Linked DNA regions of Homo sapiens. The main gene of each other region encodes a partner of the protein of the gene in region 2 in a complex. Each region holds a gene or a part of one and is shown on either strand. Other genes may lie near its edges. A codon is read from its position in the direction of its gene.

Region 1 (9,888 bases), on a different chromosome or scaffold from region 2:
TCCCCCAAAATGACAGATTAGTGCTACCTGCCTCCAGAGATAATGAGTTCCTTGTCACTAGAGATGTTCAAACAGAGATTGGATGACCACTTAGTCAGGAGGTGGAGAGAAGACTGAAGTTGTGGATTGAGAATTGGATCTGATGACTTCTAAGACCCCATCAAGACCTGATTCAAAGACTCCAAATTCAAACTTGAGGTTGCTTAGGTGCAGCCAGACTGTGGCCCGGAAAGAAAGCCTACTAACATTAGCTAAGAAAATATGAATCTAATCTGGAGCTATTCTATAATTGTCCTATTGAGTTTTTTCAAAGTCTCGAATTTTGTTTTAGGGTGAGAAATTTGGGGGAAAGCGTATTGGAAAGGGGATCCGTCATTGGGGGAGGATTGGGTAGCTGGAGGACTTTGTATCTACTCATTGTACGTAATCCTAGGTATAGGTGGTGTTGACTAGGGTTCCACACCTGCTGCAGTAGAGACAAGGAGCCTCCTTAGTTGCATGTAAGGAGGAGATCCCTGGGGCCCTGGCTGACATGCCTGAGAAGATCTGCCTTTTAAGAATATGAAACTTTGGAGCTGTCACTTTTTTCATACAAGCATAAGCAGGGAGGCCAAACTGACTGTTTTCTTTACTCCTATCCTCGGTAGCTGATTTTGGGAGCTTTACATACATAGCCAACCTGAAATAATGACGTGAGGAATTGACAATTCAACCGTAAAAGTCTCCGTAAGAAACGAGGGGGACTGACAAGCCACTCTCACTGCCATTGGAGGGAACTGAAGGCTTATCACATAATTGTAGAATGTCAGAGCTGATAGTGCCCTTACAGATAATCTGTCTTCTCATGTTATAGATGACAAAACTGAGGCCCAGAAAGGTGAAGTTATTTACCCAAAGTCACATAGCCAAGCACATTCAGTCTGTTATTTGGATTATTAGCCATTGTTTTGAAAGTGCCTTTATTCACATTTAAACTGGTAACATCTTCCAATACTCTGTAATACTGGCCCAAATCCTCGAAGAACCGAAGAAACTCAAATCATTTTCCTAGCTGGCCAGTCTTGCAAAGAAAGGGTTTAGGAGTTTCATCTAAAGCCTAGATTAGTGTAAAGAACCTGAAAGCAAGCAGCGGATTTGAGCCACATTCTGTTCTCCGTAGGTGACTCAGGAATAAGCTGTTAGAGTCTTCACTAATGAATTAAATGGCACCTCGGTGACAGTACAGGAGGGCAGAAATAAGATCAGAAATAAGATCTTAACCCTTTTACGCCTGCATTAAATTACACATCATCTATATGTGAGAACTAATTCCTGTTGGTTTACCCAGATACCCACCCACCTGGCCCAGAACTGTCCTCAATGTGGAGTGCTGCCTCCTAGAAATGACCCCTAAGTGAGCCGAGGCCCAAGGGTATTTGACTCAGTGTTCTGAAAGGGACATAGGCAGAAAGAACTCTTGATGTTCTGCCTCAGGAGAAAGAGCCCCTAGACCCTATGTCTGTGATGATGGAATTAATGTAAAGGTTCTAAAAATTCTTGTTTTAGGTATCTGTTATAAGCCACAGTCACTGCAGTGACTTCATGCTAGCTACCAGCCTGGTGGGCTAAAAGGCTTTGAACCCTCTGTGCCTCTGGTCATGACCGGCCATAGAGTGGGCGGGCTTCATGAGCAAGTGATATTATATGGAGTCTGGTTTGAGCGACACTGAGAATGTCTATTACTTATTCCCTGCACCTCTCTCCCCAGTAAAAGGGAAAGATCTCACTGTCAGGACACCTAAAATTCCATCATCAGAGAAGCACCAGAGACTGTTACCAGTCTTCAGGTGTCCCTTCACTTGTGGCCTGCTGCCACGGCAGCTGTTGACGGCTATTGCTTCCCTGGGAAATGGGGATCAGACTCTGGGTCCCCAGTGCGAGAGCATCAAGGTTTGGATGGGGAGACACAGCAATGCAAAAACCAAGCTTGGTGGACTTCATCATTTTGCCTAGTGGTAGCTGCATATGTAAGCTGACAAATATGTGTGACTGTGCCCCTAAGGGTGTATTTTCCCCAGAGAGTGTCTTTGTGTTTTTTTTTTTTAACCCCCACACACACACCCATGTATGTGTGTATATCTGCATGCATATATATGTGTGTGTGTGTCTGTGTGTCTGTGTCTATAACCAATCTTTAAACATTGGCATTGTCAGTTTCCCGATCTAGCAAATGTAGTAAAATATTTCAATGACACTTTTACCAGTAATTAAGCTGCTTACCTTCACAAAGCCTTCAAACTGGCTTTTAATCTCCTCACAGTTCAGTAAGGATAAGGATCTTTCTCCTGTGTTGCATCTCTGTATCGTTTTCATGAATACAAAATCTTCATGAAGATTCCTTTCATCTTCTATCTATTTTGGAATAACAAGGATATGATAAATGTCATTCGGAAGGAGAATACAGCTAATGATATCTGCCTCTACATTCATTTCCACGGCATCAACAAGAGGAGGACTTTCAGGCATAAATGGAGAATAATAAGTTATTATATTGGCTGATTGCTATTTTGTATTTGCAGTTTAAAAATCTATAAAAGACAGCAATTAAGATGTCATGTTATCAGAAACTCCAGGTAGAAATCAGAGCTATTCTACTAAATGTTCACTACAAAATGCATATTTTTTCAACATACTATAGCAGCAATATTCTGTAATTGTCACATTTCTCATTGCTTCAGTAATGATTGGTCATTATAAACATCAGCCTAGAAAATAGTTTTCTGCAGAGCTAATTTGCCCACTTCATTTTAGTGTTTGTGATGCAGTGCTTTATAAAAAGAAGTTAATTTGCAATGTGTCAGTTAACGAGTTCTAATTACATCTCTCTCCCTTTTAACTTTAGTATTTGTAGAAAACATTTGCATTTTTAAAGAAATCATCTTTTATCCTCAAAGTAACAAGATATTTTATTTTCCAATGTCTTAGAATAATTAAATGTACAGAATTCACTTGCATTATCAACTAATTTTATACCATTTTCTTGCTTTAAGAGTAGATTTTTTAGATTCAAAACAAGATTCAGTTAGCTGGCAGCTTCTGCTGTAATTAAGAGCACATGTAAATAGTACGGTAAATATCAGTCCACTGAGGTCACTATTGCCCCTTTAGAAGCTAGGCCTATGTCCATACATTTGATTGACAGAGCACATCAGGCCAAACACAAATAACCAACCAGACCAGAAGCCCCCTCTTTTGTCAGCAGTGAAACCTAATATTTGGATAACCCAGTGGATGACTTCAGCCCTCACTACCTCACCTTATCCTGTTAGAAAAATCTCATGACATTAATTCTAGGTCCAGATCCTAAGAGAGGACACTCAAGTATCCCTGATAAAGTGCAATCATCCAGATGCTTTCTAGCCACAGTTCCTGCATCCAGAATTTTAGGAACAGCCAGAAAACTAATCAACTTTCTCCTTTACATCTATGATTGGTATTTTGTCAACACCAGCCAATTATACTCCTCAGTGGAAGTGAAAAAATACATGAAAACAAAATAAGTCCTGATGGTTTTCTTTTCCTAAGAATGCAAAACAGCCTACTAAGTTACTCTGCTCTTTTGTTCCTGCAAGTCTAACCATTTAAAAATGTAAAACATCTCAGAGGGAGACTGAGCATCCTGCAACTACAATCAGTGCTTGTGAAGAATTACACAGAAAATGCTACTTTTACTAAAAGACTGCAAATTCTGGGACTTATCCATGTCTATGTTAATCTGAAGCATTATGAAATTTTAGATCAAATTGACGCTCTTCTTGCCTAGCTGGAAATTTAAAAGAAAAAAGCTGTCTCCATAAAAAAATAGCTTACTTTTAAAGCAGAACTTTAGCAAATAATTATAGCTAGTGCGTACATAGTGCTTACTATGTATCAGACCCCCTCCTAAGCTTTTTACAAGGCTAAACTCACTTAATCTATGAAATGGACACCAATACCATCCCCATTTCTCAGATGTGGAAACTGAGGCACTTGCCCCAGGATAACAGAGATGGTATGGGCAGAGCCAAGATTTGAACCCAGGCAGTCTGACTCCAGATCCCAAGATCCTAACCAGAGACAAGAATATGAGACTTCATTGACTAGGCAACAAACATTATGCCACAAGACCATTCTTCTATTTGGTTTCTACCATCATCCATCATTTGGGTAGAACCAACCTATGAATTAGTAAGGACCCCAAATTTAGTTAATAAAGGCTTGTGGTTCATCTTACCTTGTCCAACCTTCTATGAAGATACACAGCAAAAAGTGCTGACCCAATCATCTGGGTGATAAGAAAAACAGTAAGTAAATACATAAAAATTTTCATGCTGATGGGCAGTCCAGTGGCCGCAGATCGGGGAGAAGTTTGGTTGTATGTTTCGATCATGCTGTGTTAAAGTTGAAATGGTATCTTCTGGCAGAGAAGGTGGCAGAGGCAGCATGAGAAGACTGTCAAAGTGGCCACCTTACTCAGGATTAGTTAAGAGCGCACAATCGTTGCAGCCCACACTTCCTGGAAAATGTGCTTCGTAGTCTTCTCTCCCAGCAAAAACGTTACGTAAAGGTTTTTTGTTTTTTTTTTTTTTTTTAATTATACCCATATCATTCACTTCCAGGCTTTCCTTTTTGTAAGTAAAGAAGAAACAAGTTTCTTCTTCCATATATTCATTCTTGCCTTGAAATGTCATAGACTTCTTAACAGACAATGGCAGTATTTTCCTATCACTGTCTAACTTTTTGGGTTCACCAGTTTCAAGGAAAGTGACAAATTCATCCACCAGCAATAGACTTATTTCAATTTCAATCTTACTAATACGAAGCGGGAACCTGGTATATGGAGAAAGAAACACATGTCAACAAAAGTTTGGATTGATTTTATGACTGGTGTCCCATCAACTAATTGCTTCTCAGAACTTTACTTCTTTAATCACTAAACTCAATGAAAGCCTGGCAGGTTTTCAGGTCAAGTCTACATGGCATAAAGCAAAAAAAGCATGCTGATGGTTATTAAATAAAATTTAGCTGGAAAGATAATGCAAGAAAAATAAATTTTGCAAAGGCAAAGATAAGTAGGGTCTTGAGGGAAATCAGGCCAAGACTCTGGAATTGAAGTTAAAGTAAAAATCGTGACTTGACGTAGCTAAGCTGCCTGTGTACACTGTTCCAATCCATTAGATAATTGTTGATGCTGATGTAACAGTTCAGAATAGGGAAAATAGGCTGCAGTTAAGAGATCTGAATTCTAGTCTTTGCTCTACCAATAAATTGCTATGAGCCTTGGGCAAATCACTTCATCTCTTTAGACCTCAGTTTCCTCATACCCAAAGGAGGCACTTGCACCTGTCTTGCTTATCCTGTAGGTTGCTGTGAAGATCTAATAAAGATGTGCATGGAAGAAATTTGAAACACGTTAAGCAATAAACAATTCTCATCCTGAATTTTTTGGAATTTATTTAGCCTAAGACATGAGTTTAACAAATAATTGCCAACTCCTTACATGTTGGTAAAAACCAAATGAACAATAACAATATTAAAAACACCTTAAGTTTTGACAATGAATTGAATCACTGAAGTGTGTAGGATTACACATTTCTGAAGGGCTTTTGCATCATCTTATCAGATTTCCTTCAAACTAAAAGCAGCTGTGGAAATCCCTACCTCACATCCAAACCTGGTCTAGAAACCATGATAAAATTGCTTTGATGATTCCTATAAAATTGTTTTGAGAGACAAATAGGAAACGTAAAAACTGCTCTGATAGGCATGCTATCTATATAGTTAGCACCTGCTTTCTTCCCCTCCCACGCCCCAGCATCCTGTCCTGGGCCCAGATCTATGTAGCTTTTCACTACATCTGCCAAGTAGGTGGCTTCGATGCACGTGATGAACTTTGATCAGTCAAGTCAGAGGCTTTGGTTCTTAGACAAGTAACCTTAGTTCCACTGAAGGAAAATTATCATGAGAGCCAAAATGGGCTCAAGGACTTCTGCACTGTCAGTTTTATACAACTTGAGAGTGCCAGAGCTGCAGGGGCCCTGCAATCAGCTCAGCCAAGACCCGAGGGAGGGGAGGCTGAAGGTCACAGATTTGTTCACGTGACCAACTTGAAAAAACAGTTGTTGTCCAACCTCCTTGCCTCAACTTCTTGATCCCCAGCCTCCTACAGTCTGACTTCTGCCCACAATATTCCCCTGAAATTGATCCCACCATTATTAGCTCAATAATAGTTTTGGCTGAATACTTCTTAGAGTTTATTTTTAGCGACCTCTCTATTACTCTGTTGACCTATTATCCTGTTGTCATCTTCCTGAATGCTCTCCCCACTTGAATTCTATATCACCCTATTCTTAAGGGCTTCTGCCTCTCAGAATCCTTCTTCATGTTATCTTCTTTCCTCTTTGTATCCCTTAAAACTTTGGTATTCCTTCTCTCTATTTCCTTTCCTTCTCCCTTCTCCTCTCCTCCCCTCTCTTCTTGTTCTCCATGGTTTCATTGGGTGATTCATGGGTTTCATGAACTTTCATGGGTTTCAATCTCACCTTCATTGTGATAAATCTCAAATCTATAACTGAAGTCCTGAACTTCAGAGTTGTAAGCACAGCTACCTCTGAAAATCTCTACTTGGATATCCCAAAGCCATCTTACATTTGGTATGCTCTAAAATTAATTTATCTCACCACTCTAATTCCAATCCAGACCTGTTCTCCCTTAAGATTCTCCGTATCTCTGTGAATGGTCCCACCACCCACTTAATTGCCCAAGTCAGAGATCTGGGATCCATTCATGATTTTTCACTCTCTCTTGCCCCAGATTGCCCCAATCCCAGTGGCTTCTTCCTCCAAAAACCTTGGTTGCCACCACTTCTCTCCATGGCCCCTGCCATCATCCTATTCCAGGCCCATATATCCTCTCCTTTGTAGATTACTGAATTGTACCATCCTAACTTATCTCCCTGTTTCTCTTTCTGTCCCACCCCATCCATCTTTCACACTGACAGCAACTGACTCCAGAATGCCCTGCTTGTACCTCAATTGTTGAAGCCTTCTCTTTCTCTCATCCTTCTGCCTGGTCCTCTACCATAATGCCACAATTGGCTACCTTTCCAGCTTCCTCATTTGGGCTGTTTTTTTGATTTCTGATTCTGCATCAGAAGTTCTTTGTCTCAGAACCTCTCATGCCTGTCTCTCCCTAACAGGGAGTTGGCTCCGTTTTAATATCTTCAGCTGCCTAACACGTCCAAAAATGATTATCAAACTTAGTTTCCAAGAAATGTATACATGTATAGGAGTGCATGCAAGTGTCTATAGCCAAAATCAAATATTGACCATCTTTTTCTAAGTTTACAGAAAGAATTAAGTTAATGGATTGAAGTCTCATTTTTCAGTTATTTTTACACAGAATTTTCTTAAATATTGGTCACCCTTTTCTACTACTACTTTTCTGCTAGCTAGTGATTGATTTGTAGCAAATATCAAGGGAAAAATAAGAAAAACAATGGATCATACTTCAACAGTTTGTTTTTGATGTGAATATGCCTGTGGTTGTGATTTTATATTGATAACCCAGAACACAGTCATAATTTCTGCTTGGAAAATCATTTCCAGTACATATGAAAGAGTTAAATATAACAGTATTTTGTTTGTTGTATGAAGGGCCTCCTAAGGGTTCTTTTCCCTGAATATACCTGAAAAGCTCTAGACTAGAGGAAAGGGTCTCGATTCTTAACATGGCAGATGAGTTGACCCCTGCCCACATTTCTCTCCTCATCGTCTACGACTCATTAGGTCTCAAACATTTTAAGCTAGTTTTATTTCCTGAAATGTGCTGTGCTTATTCATGTTATTTGTGTGCCAAGGCTAATTCTCTCCTGTCTTATCTATTAATGTTTTTTGTTTGTTTGTTTGTTTGTTTGAGACAAAGTCTCACTCTGTCGCCCAGACTGGAGTGCAATGGCACGATCTCAGCTCACTGAAACCTCCATCTCCCAGGTTCAAACGATTCTCCTGCCTCAGCCTCCCAAGTAGCTGGGACTACAGGCTTGCGCAACCGCGCCTGGATAATTTTTACAAAATTTTTTTAGTAGAGACGGGGTTTCACCATATTGGCTAGGCTGGTCTCAAACTCCTGACCTCATGATCTGCCAGCCTCGGTGTCCCAAAGTGCTGGGATTACAGATGTGAACCACAGCGCCCGGCTATCTATTAATGTTTAAGTGAAATATTCTGTTCCAGCTGACAAGGTGCTCTCTTCTGTACTTAATCTTTTTGTTGTTGTTGTTGTTGAGAAGGAGTCTGGCTTTGTCACCCAGGCTGGAGTGCAGTGTCATAATCTTGGCTCACTACAACCTCCACCTCCCGGGTTCAAGTGATTCTCCAGCCTCAGCCTCTTGAGTAGCTGGGATTACAGGCGTGCACCACTCTGCCTGGCTAATATTTGTAAATTTAGTAGAGACGGGGTTTCACCAAGTTGGCCAGGCTGGTCTTGAACTCCTGACCTCAGGTGATCCACATGCCTTGGCCTCCCAAAGTGCTGGGATTACACAGGCGTGAGCCACTGTGCCCTACCTCTTCTGTGCTTAATCTATCATAGCATTTGCCACATCATATCATAATGGACTTGTCTGATTTTTCTACCATTAGCTATTAGAGGAAAAAGATAATTAAAACAAACAAACAAACAAAAAAACCCAGAAATTTTGGTTCCTGACACATTGTAAGGAGTTAGTAAATGTTTGCCAAATTACTAAATATTATTTTAAAGAGATAGAAGGGGAAGTTGTAAAATATTCTAACCTGGGAGAATAGCGCTTGGCTAGCTTTTCTAGCAATACATGTCAGAATATATTTACATTTTCTTCAATTCCCTTAATTCTCCCTCTTTCCTCTGGGTCAGTTCCATTTGTTTATTTTGGTCCTTTTCATTATGTTGCTAGTTTTTCTCAAATGCTTGGCCATTTATTTATTTATGAATGAAAACCCGTGTTGGTTATTATGGGTAGATGGCATGAGTTTCCTCTGCAATTGTGTTGATCTATCTGTTTTCCCCACAAACCTCTCTCCGGAATGGGAGGGCTGACTGTGGGTTCTGTTTAAGTGGGTAGGAAATGTCAACAGTCAGGCTTCCCTTTAGGTTATGTGGGTGGAGAGGCAGGAAGACCAGGGACCCCCACAACTGATGAAGTAAGGAGGGCTTTTCTCTGGGGGTGGAGCCTTGTAGAAGGTTTCACTCTTGACTAATATTGGTTTTCCTTTTGGTTTTGTCCTCCTATCTGTTGTGGAGGTCTCAGCACCCTTCCTAGAGCCCTCTCTAGGTAACTTTAGACTGAGGGCCAAGGCCAAATGCTGCTGCTAACAAATGGTCCACTGGGGGAAAGGAGAGAGAGGGAGAGGGCCACTTTTCCCAGCTGTTTCCGCTGCCGCTCTTCAATGATTGCCTCATAGCCCACCCCTGCTCCTCACATTCATTGACTCTGTGATTAATGCTTCTTTGGGAAAGCATACTCTTACAACTTATTGAATTGCAATGTTTACTGCTCTGATCTGTCTGTTAGTCCAAATTCATGGCCTTTCTTGCTTGTTGCTATCTCTCAAAATTTATGTCACATTGATGTCACCTTTTCTTATTTCCTATGGTTGTTGTGGTTTCTTCCTTTTTATATTTATTTTTGACTAAATAATACATTCACATGGTCTAAAATGTAAATGAAAGAGTATGAAAGAGTATGTAATGCAGTCTTTTTCCCATCTCTTCCTTTCAGTCTTCCATGGTTAAACAGTGTTGTCAGTTTCTTATGTATCTTCCTGGGATGCTTTTATGCACATTCAAGCAAATACATAGATATTCCCTTTCAGCCTTTTAACACCCAGC
Region 2 (9,777 bases):
GCATTATTACTCCCATTTTAGAGATAGAGAAACTGAGGCTAAGAGAAGCAAAATAACTAGTAAGTGTTACAAAGTCAGGACTGGAGTCTAAAGCTGTCTGACTCTCAAACTTGTGTTCTTTTCACTGGCTGTTCCCAAACTGTGGGACAGTTTTAAGGAGCACATGGACATAGAATTAAACATACACTTACTTTACAGTTCTTTTAAAAATCCTTCTCATTTTTTCAAAGAGGAAGTCTCTGGAGCTAGAATAGAGTTAATGCCTCTCAAAGGCTTGCTAATCCTTCTTTTAAAACAAAAATCAAGAGCAGGCCTGGGAGGGCCTTCAACAAGCAAACAACCAGCTGGGTTTTAATAACCTTGTTTTGTTTCCCCAGAATTTATTTTTAGGGTTACCTTTTATTTATGAGAAGTGATACTGGTTCTTGTCTCTTGGCAATGATGTGAGGTTTACATTTAAAGTAAATGTACCGGCCAGGCACGGTGGCTTGTGCCTGTAATCCCAGCACTTTGGGAGGCCAAGGCAGTCAGATCACTTGAGGTCAGGAGTTTTAGATCAGCCTGGCCAACATGGTGAAACCCTGTCTCTACTAAAAATACATAAATTAGCCGGGCATAGTGGTACACACCTGTAATCCCAGCTACTCAGGAGGCTGAGGCTGGAGAATTGCTTGAACCCAGGAGATAGAGGTTGCAGTGGGCTGAGATGATGCCACTGCACTCCAGCCTGGGCGATGGAGCGAGACTCTGTCTCAAAAAATAAAATAAAAGTATTGAAATTAACAATAAGTAATTAATAGCATGGGTGGTACCTGGATGTAGTAAAATGGTGAAGATGAAACACAAGTTGATGGAGAGAGGAGCATTGAGACCTGAGTTCTCATTTGGACTCTGTCACTGTGAGACTCTGGGCAAGTGACCCTCCTCTTTGGTGCTCAGTCTCAACTATCTGTAAAATGAAAGTGTGAGTTTACCCTTCCAGCTTTACATTCTAGCATTTTATGAGGGAAGGGCTGGATGAACAGATGATGAGGAGTTGGAGGAAGAAAACATGATGGGCTTTGGAAAGGAGCAGGAAGGGAAGCAGAAGAATAGGAGGAAGAGGCCAAGTGCTAAACATAGCCCCAAACAGCACTGGGACCAGCTGAAGTCAGCCAGCTTCAGGACTCCAGGGGAGCTGCTGGAGTCCCCATATCCTATGGGATCTTTGGGAAGAGGAATGACTCAGGCATCAAGCCCCAAGGAATTCTGTTCTGTTCAGAGAATATTGTGAGTTTACAGTACCATTGCTTTGTAAAAATACCAGAATGATTCTCTGGGTGCGATTATAATCAGCTCAGTTGACAATTTACTTGAAAACAAACATGCCAAATATCATGCAGGTTCCACTTTCTGTTTTGACTTGCACTTCAGTTTGCAGCCTCTGTCCTGGATGACTTTTACCTTTCTGCTGAAGAAGTTGCAACGGAGATTTCAAGATCCCTTCAAATTGCACAATTCTGTTTTTAGGTCCATCCAGAACCACCCACTGCATGCAGAGAAAAACAGTACCTAATAAACAGTCAGTGCTGTTCTTTGTGCCAGCCAGGTGAGATGCCAACCCTCTAGCCCCATCATGGAGTCCCCCTTTGCTTTGGTGGCAGACGCAGACCCCATATGTTAACTGTAAACTCAAATCTGAAACGACCCATTTCCCAGCCCTGCTTCACTGTCAGAATGTTCTGGTTCCCTCTCTACCAGGTAAAACTCTGTCTACCCTGAACTAGGGATCCCAGCTTCTCCATCTTCCTCGCCTGATTATGAAGGATCCAAGACTTTCATCTTTGAATCCCCTACCCTAAAGCCTGGCCTGATCATTGTGTGGTTAGTGTCTGACTCATGGAGTTGGCCAGAGCCCTCCCTCATTTCCTGATGTTTTCCAGGACAGAAACTGGTGAGTGACTGCACAGAGTTCACTGAAACGGAATGCCTTCCTTGCGGTGAAAGCGAATTCCTAGACACCTGGAACAGAGAGACACACTGCCACCAGCACAAATACTGCGACCCCAGTGCGTGCGCTGTTGGGAAAGGGACGCTTGGGAACCGGGCTGATATTCCCGACAATGCAGCCATTCTAATTTTATGTAGCCAGGGTCTGCTCTGATTGGTTGGAGTCCGGGCTGTACTGATCATTAAATGATTTGATTGCCATCTCTACTTGGAAGAGGGTCTGAGGAAGAAAGAGCAGGCAATGTGGGGAGTGAGGCTCAGAGCATGGCCCAGCAGGGGGTTCCCATCCTTCCTGCCCTTCTCTTCTCAGACCTAGGGCTTCGGGTCCAGCAGAAGGGCACCTCAGAAACAGACACCATCTGCACCTGTGAAGAAGGCTGGCACTGTACGAGTGAGGCCTGTGAGAGCTGTGTCCTGCACCGCTCATGCTCGCCCGGCTTTGGGGTCAAGCAGATTGGTAAGTGGCTCATCTGGGAATCAGTTTTGGAGGGGGACAGAGGAGCTTAGGGCCCAAGGTGAGGGGCTGGGCAGTGGGCACTTAGCCCCAGAGGCAGAGGAAGCAGAGGCTCCAACCTATGTCGGTATCCCCACTGGAGTGAGCTGCAGACGGGACCTTGTTCATTCTGCCTTCTGCCATGGGGATCTGCCTTTGAAGGGCAATGGGAGAAGTCCTCCTGGGGACTGCAGCTGTCGGGGGCAGTACCACATCGGGGGAAGAGTGCTCAAGGCAGGAGCTCTTCCCGTCCTGCCTGGCCACTGGCTGCCTTGTGAGCCGGACAGGTGGTCCACTGTGATGGTTAATGTCCCCCTCCCCACCCACTCCCAGCTACAGGGGTTTCTGATACCATCTGCGAGCCCTGCCCAGTCGGCTTCTTCTCCAATGTGTCATCTGCTTTCGAAAAATGTCACCCTTGGACAAGGTATAAGCACTCATCCCTTGTGTTTCCTGCTCTAAGAGTGGCATGGAGCTGCCTCCATTCTCTCCAGCCACCTGTCCTGTCCCTGCTCCCAGAGGTCCACACACACTCATGTACTTGTGAAGCATCTGCAGAGTGGCCTCATGGCCAACCAGACAGGCACATTTCCACATTTTTTTTGCCTGCTGTCTCTTTGAGGTAATAGACACTGTTGATCTCTCGCTTCATGAGAGCCTCCTATCTTGGGGGTATTGGGACACTTATTTTAGCTTTCCTTCTGCCCCTCCTGCTTCTCCTCAGTTTTCCTCGTCTTGCTTTCACCTTACCTGGCTTTCTAGGGCTTTCTGGGCTCTGGGTGCTCACCCTGAGGGCCTCCCTCTCTTACCTCCAACTCCAAACCCACACCAGGTCCTGCCACTGGCTGTCTACGTGTTTTGGGAACTTACTGTCTCCACTGTTGTCACTTTAGTTTGGGCCTCATCACTGTGGTCTGGGTGATGCCTTTTCTGCCTCCTGGCCTCCCTGCCTCTGTCTCTCCCCTCCTGCTGGTTCTGTCTCCATCCTCTTGCCAACATGAGCGTTCGACAGTTTCTTTCAAATCATGACACTCTCCTATTTGAGATGCTTCCTGTCTCTCTGTTGGAACTAAGACTCCTTAGCATGGCACCCAACCTTCCTGTTGCATTTCCTGCTCTCTTTCCTGCATCGCATAGCTTCATGCTACTTGCAATCCTCTGAACACACTGTTCATTCTCTTCCATCAAACTCATCTGCCTGGAATACCTTAAACATGGGCCCCAGGCCAGGCGCGGTGGCTCTTGCCTGTAATCTCAGCACTTTGGATGCCAAGGCGGGTGGATCACTTGAGGTCAGGAGTTCAAGACCAGCCAGCACAACATGGTAAAAACCCATCTCTACTAAAAATACCAAAAAATTAGCTGGGTGTGGTGGTGGGCGCCTGTAATCCCAGCTCCTCGGGAGGCTGAGGCAGGAGAATCACTTGAACCCGGAAGGTGGAGTTTGCAGTGAGCCAAGATAGCGCCACTGCACTCCAGCCTGGGCAACAGAGCGACATTCTGTCTCAAAAAACAAACACCTGCCCCATTAACTTTTTGCATTTGATTTTTAAAAATGGGCAAGATAGGCACATGGGACAGAAGGCACAAAAGAGCCAAAGTGATGTCTTTCTCCCATCCCTGCCCCTTAGGCTCCCAGTTCTTTCTGGAGGGAGCCATTGTTCCTTGCATATCCTTCCAGAGATTCTACATATAAACAAACCAACACACACACACACACACACAAACACACACAAAATTTCCCTCCTTTTACTTTTGCACAAATAGGAGTATACATTTTATTTGTTAACTGTCTGCCTTTCCCTAATAGATTGAAAATTCCTTAAATGTAGAAACTTGGCCTTTTTTTTTTCTTCCATTGATACATCCCCTATACCTGGAACAGTACCTGACGCATGGTAGGTGCTTAAATTTTTACTGATAAATGTTGACTGATAACTGGAGGCACCACTGGTATAGTTTTTTTTTTTTTTTTTTTTTTTTTTTTTTTTTGAGACAGAGTCTCACTCTGTCGCCCAGGCTGGAGTGCAGTGGCGCAATCTCGGCTCACTGCAAGCTCTGCCTCCCAGGTTCACGCCATTCTCCTGCCTCAGCCTCCTGAGTAGCTGGGACTATAGGCGCCCGCCACCACACCCGGCTAATTTTTTTGTATTTTTAGTAGAGACGGCGTTTCACCGTGTTAGCCAGGATGGTCTTGATCTCCTGACCTCGTGATCCGTCTGCCTTGGCCTCCCAAAGTGCTGGGATTACAGGCGTGAGCCACCGTGCCCGGCCACCAGTGGTATAGTATTAATGGAATCAGTGCATTGGCTTACGTATCTGATTACAGCTCAGTAAGTGTGTGACCCTCACTGAGCCTCAGTCTCCTCATCTGAAAAATGGGAATGACCTTCATTTCACAAGGCTTGAGCTAAAAACATGTAAAGTGTATTGTAAATTCCTGAATGCTCTACTCATGTAAGACTAAAGTAGGCCGGGCGTGGTGGCTCACACCTGTAATTGCAGCACTTTGGGAGGCCGAGGAGGGCAGATCATGAGGTCAAGAGATCGAGACCATCCTGGCTAATATGGTAAAACCCTGTCTCTACTAAAAATACAAAAATTAGCTGGGCGTGGTGGCGCACATCTGTAGTCCCAGCTACTCAGGAGGCGGAGGCAGGAGAATTGCTTGAACCTGGGAGGTGGAGGTTGCAGTGAGCTGAGATCGCGCCACTGCATTCCAGCCAGTCTGGCGAAAGAGCAAGACTCTGTCTCAAAAAAAAAAAAAAAAAAAAAAAAAGACTAAAGTACATGGTTTCTTCAAAGCTTCTCTCTCTTTCTCCCACCTTAGATGATTTTTCCTTTGCAATGTCCTGTGTCCATTCCGCCCCACTCCTCCTGGGGCCACCTGGACCAGGTCTTCATCATCTCATATCTATATGTTTGCTGTGTCTCCTGGCTGGCCACTCTTCTGTAATTTCTCCTCCTCTGAGCTCTCTGGGCAGCTGAATCTTCTCACTAGTGAAGTCGCCTGGTTGGATGCTGATGAGACTGACCAGCTGAATCCAGTTGAAAACTTCACACTTGGCAGTGATCTGGTTCTAAAGACACAATTTTCCATAGTTTCCTAACACCATCCTGCATGCCACCTGCCTTATTTCCCCACATCACATCGTCCCACTTAGCGGGACTGCACTGCTGATCCAAATTTTACATCCTTTAGGGCCCACTCAGGTCATATGTCCTCAGGGAAGTCTTTCTGGAAGAACCTTAAACCAGAGGTTCTCAACAGGGGGCAGTTTTGCTCCCTGTGGAACGTTTGCCAATGTCTGGACACATTTCATTCGTCACAAACGGAGAGGGGGATGCTACAGGGATCTGGCGGATAGAGGCCAGGGATGCTGCTGAACATCTGCAATGCATAGGACAGCCCACCCCCACCCCCACACCCCCAGTAAATAATGATCCAGCCCAAGTGTCACTGGTGCTGACGTTGAGTAACCCTATCTTAAGCTGAACTCATCATCTCTCCATTCCAGCCTTGGTGGATTCTGTCTCCTCTGAACCATTCCCATCTCACTTTAGCCTACCTAGATCACAAAGCTTGGCACTCATTATAGACTCCCCTATTTATTACTCCTTCAAGATGTGCAAGAATCTTTTCTCTGCACTTTTAAGTTCTGTAAGAAGAGTCTGTGTCGTTCCTATAATAACCAGCATAGGACGTTGCACGTGTTGTGTGCTCAGTGAACCTGGATTTGTTGATTGTTGACTGACTCACTCTAGAGTTGGAAATCTTATGCTTGGGGAAACTTAATATCTCTTTCTTTCTCTGTGTGTGTGCATTTGTGCACGTGTCTGTGCATAGCTGTGAGACCAAAGACCTGGTTGTGCAACAGGCAGGCACAAACAAGACTGATGTTGTCTGTGGTGAGTCCTGGACAATGGGCCCTGGAGAAAGCCTAGGAAGGTGGGAACTGAAGGGGGAGATGAGGCACACAGGAACACTGGATGGGAAAAAGGGGAGGGGAGGCAGTTTGGGGGTGTGGTATCACAGCTCTGCCACTTATCTTGGGAGTCTGGGCAAATCACTTCCCCTCTCTTAGCCTCAGTTTCTTCATCTGTAAAATGGGATGATAACAGCACTTCCTTAGTAGGTTTTGATTTTAGAGTGAGAAGGTTGGCCTACAGTAAAGATCAGATAATGTAAATCAGTGAAAAAGGTCAGGGGTAAGAAAATTACATTCTCTTTACCTAACGCTAAATGACCAGTTAATGGGTGCAGCACACCAACATGGTACATGTATACATATGTAACAAACCTGCACATTATGCACATGTACCCTAAAGCTTAAAGTATAATAATAATAAAATTTAAAAAAACGAAAAATACATTCTCTTTGCTTTTTCTCAAAATGTACTTTCCTCTTTGTAGGGCTGGGACTAGAATGAGGTGAGCAAGGCACTTGCCCTCGGGCGCAATATTTAAGAAGGTGCCATAAAAGTGTAGTAATCAAGGTAAATTCATTTTGATGCAATATTTTTAAAAATAAAAATTAATGCAAAGAAATCCATGATGAGCAAGATAGCAACATTTTAAATAAAGAACAGGATCCGACCCTGTGTTTGCATGACCCTGCCTCACTCACCTCACCCTAATCCTGGCCCTGGTTCCAGTAAAAGGAATAGGCAGCCAGCCTGCAGGCCGTAGTTTGCTGACTTGGTGTCCGCCTGATGATTTTCAAAATATGGCATTAAAAGAATGTTTACCTTGATGACTGAGTGTTTTGGACATCCTTTTCAATTTTGTCCTGAAACAATTTCATCCCTTGCCTCACGCTAGTCTCCGCCCTGCCTTTTGGTCTTTCTTTTATTTTCCCACTTTGAAAAAAAAATTCGGCATGAGAAATACTTTACCTTTCCCCTCCACTCTTCTATACCAAAAGCAACATGCAGACATGAATCATGCTAGACCTCGGCATTGGGCAGAGAGCAGGGAGTGGCGGGGAGCATGGTGAGCAGGTGGTGACAGCCACTGCCACCACTCGCTTCTAGATGGTTCCCAGGTGGGGAGGCTGCCAACTGGAACCCAGTCTTCCCAGTTTGTAAGAGAAATCAGATGTCTAGGTTTGAATATGTGATCTCCCAGTTTAAAAATGTCGGCAAATATTTCCAAACGTTAAGAAAATGTTCTGGCTCCTTTAAAGACATCTGCCAGCCACATTTCCCCAAGGACCGCGGTTTGAACCTTCTGATGTAGATGAGCTCTGACATTGGAAGATTCTGGAGTCTGACAAGTCACAGCAGGTTGAGGGTAGGGAGAAACTGCAGGTGAGGGGTGCATGCTGAAGTCCTGATTTCTCCAGGTCCCCAGGATCGGCTGAGAGCCCTGGTGGTGATCCCCATCATCTTCGGGATCCTGTTTGCCATCCTCTTGGTGCTGGTCTTTATCAGTGAGTCCTCAGGTGGGGAGGTGTTGGGGGAGGGAGGGGAGACCACCTGTTTCTTATCTGGCCTCTCCAACTCCCCATCCTTTTTTTTTTTTTTTTTTTTTTTAGAAAAGGTGGCCAAGAAGCCAACCAATAAGGTAGGTCACCCCTGAGAACCCGGGACAGAGTTTTGACAAACTGGGAAGATGGCCTCACGGTTGCCTATGGGGCAGTAAAACTGATTCAGAGTCTGTCTCTGCAGCCAGTGGGGTGGCAGCAGAATTGGGGACTGTCATCCCCACCCACCATGCTCCTTCCATCCAGAGCTCAATCCCCCACAGAACTGCCCCTGGCACCACTGGCAGAGCCTAACACTGGCTGTTCTTCACTCCTTTCCTGGCATTCAACGCGTGGGGAGCTGCATCTTTGGGCCTTGGGGCTGGGTCAAATGGGTGGGAGCAAATGTGGCAGCCCCTTAAGCCCACTGGCTCCCACTCTGGAAGCTCTTCGTCGCCCTTGGTGTGGCCAGCAGGGGGCAGGAGGCACCCGAGGAATCAGCACTGACCCGCCGTCTGGGAAAGGGGGGAGGGCTTGGGGAAGGGATCCGCTTCCCAGGGAGGGGCTCCTCAGAGGCACAGCTGCCCCTGCTGCTGGGGGTGACCTCACACCTTGCCTCTCCAGGCCCCCCACCCCAAGCAGGAACCCCAGGAGATCAATTTTCCCGACGATCTTCCTGGCTCCAACACTGCTGCTCCAGTGCAGGAGACTTTACATGGATGCCAACCGGTCACCCAGGAGGATGGCAAAGAGAGTCGCATCTCAGTGCAGGAGAGACAGTGAGGCTGCACCCACCCAGGAGTGTGGCCACGTGGGCAAACAGGCAGTTGGCCAGAGAGCCTGGTGCTGCTGCTGCTGTGGCGTGAGGGTGAGGGGCTGGCACTGACTGGGCATAGCTCCCCGCTTCTGCCTGCACCCCTGCAGTTTGAGACAGGAGACCTGGCACTGGATGCAGAAACAGTTCACCTTGAAGAACCTCTCACTTCACCCTGGAGCCCATCCAGTCTCCCAACTTGTATTAAAGACAGAGGCAGAAGTTTGGTGGTGGTGGTGTTGGGGTATGGTTTAGTAATATCCACCAGACCTTCCGATCCAGCAGTTTGGTGCCCAGAGAGGCATCATGGTGGCTTCCCTGCGCCCAGGAAGCCATATACACAGATGCCCATTGCAGCATTGTTTGTGATAGTGAACAACTGGAAGCTGCTTAACTGTCCATCAGCAGGAGACTGGCTAAATAAAATTAGAATATATTTATACAACAGAATCTCAAAAACACTGTTGAGTAAGGAAAAAAAGGCATGCTGCTGAATGATGGGTATGGAACTTTTTAAAAAAGTACATGCTTTTATGTATGTATATTGCCTATGGATATATGTATAAATACAATATGCATCATATATTGATATAACAAGGGTTCTGGAAGGGTACACAGAAAACCCACAGCTCGAAGAGTGGTGACGTCTGGGGTGGGGAAGAAGGGTCTGGGGGAGGGTTGGTTAAAGGGAGATTTGGCTTTCCCATAATGCTTCATCATTTTTCCCAAAAGGAGAGTGAATTCACATAATGCTTATGTAATTAAAAAATCATCAAACATGTAAAAAGAAAAACGGGGGTGAACATGCTGGGTGACATGAGCTATTTAACCTGCTGTCAGGCTCACGGAATGAGGGCATTTTCTGTAGATAAATAAGAATGTCCCCAGGCTGCTGCCCCTCCAGGGTGGTTTCCATGTGTGCTCACATGTGGTATTGAGATTGCAAAGTGCTCTTCCCATTTGATTCATGTTCACAAAAATAGCCTTCCCCAGCAGGGTGGGTCTGCATCCCTCCC

What was found.
Region 1: the proteins of CD40 (region 2) and CD40LG are in contact, whole or in part, in a crystal structure (PDB 3QD6), measured with the Homo sapiens proteins. Residues at the interface, in NP_001241.1 of Homo sapiens: Glu64 (codon at 1,982), Ser65 (codon at 1,985), Glu66 (codon at 1,988), His76 (codon at 2,018), Cys77 (codon at 2,021), Gln79 (codon at 2,027), Tyr82 (codon at 2,036), Asp84 (codon at 2,042), Asn86 (codon at 2,048), Leu87 (codon at 2,302), Trp109 (codon at 2,368), Cys119 (codon at 2,398); in NP_000065.1 of Homo sapiens: Ile127, Glu129, Ala130, Lys143, Gly144, Tyr145, Tyr146, Cys178, Pro217, Cys218, Gln220, Ser245, Gln246, Ser248, His249, Gly250, Thr251, Gly252.

The regions. Positions count from the first base shown.
Region 1 is NC_000023.11:136,642,769-136,652,656, reverse strand, and holds the start of CD40LG (CD40 ligand), read right to left. Parts: upstream 4,500-9,888; 5' UTR 4,409-4,499; coding exon 4,253-4,408; intron 2,392-4,252; coding exon 2,260-2,391; intron 1-2,259. UniProt on the Homo sapiens protein: Cytokine that acts as a ligand to CD40/TNFRSF5. Costimulates T-cell proliferation and cytokine production.
Region 2 is NC_000020.11:46,120,311-46,130,087, forward strand, and holds the end of CD40 (tumor necrosis factor receptor superfamily member 5 isoform 1 precursor), read left to right. Parts: intron 1-1,509; coding exon 1,510-1,588; intron 1,589-1,922; coding exon 1,923-2,048; intron 2,049-2,299; coding exon 2,300-2,446; intron 2,447-2,815; coding exon 2,816-2,909; intron 2,910-6,329; coding exon 6,330-6,391; coding exon of another isoform or gene 6,392-6,431; exon of another isoform or gene 6,432-6,851; intron 6,852-7,668; exon of another isoform or gene 7,669-7,827; coding exon 7,828-7,914; coding exon of another isoform or gene 7,915-7,926; intron 7,927-8,019; coding exon 8,020-8,048; intron 8,049-8,571; coding exon 8,572-8,730; coding exon of another isoform or gene 8,731-8,833; 3' UTR 8,834-9,548; downstream 9,549-9,777.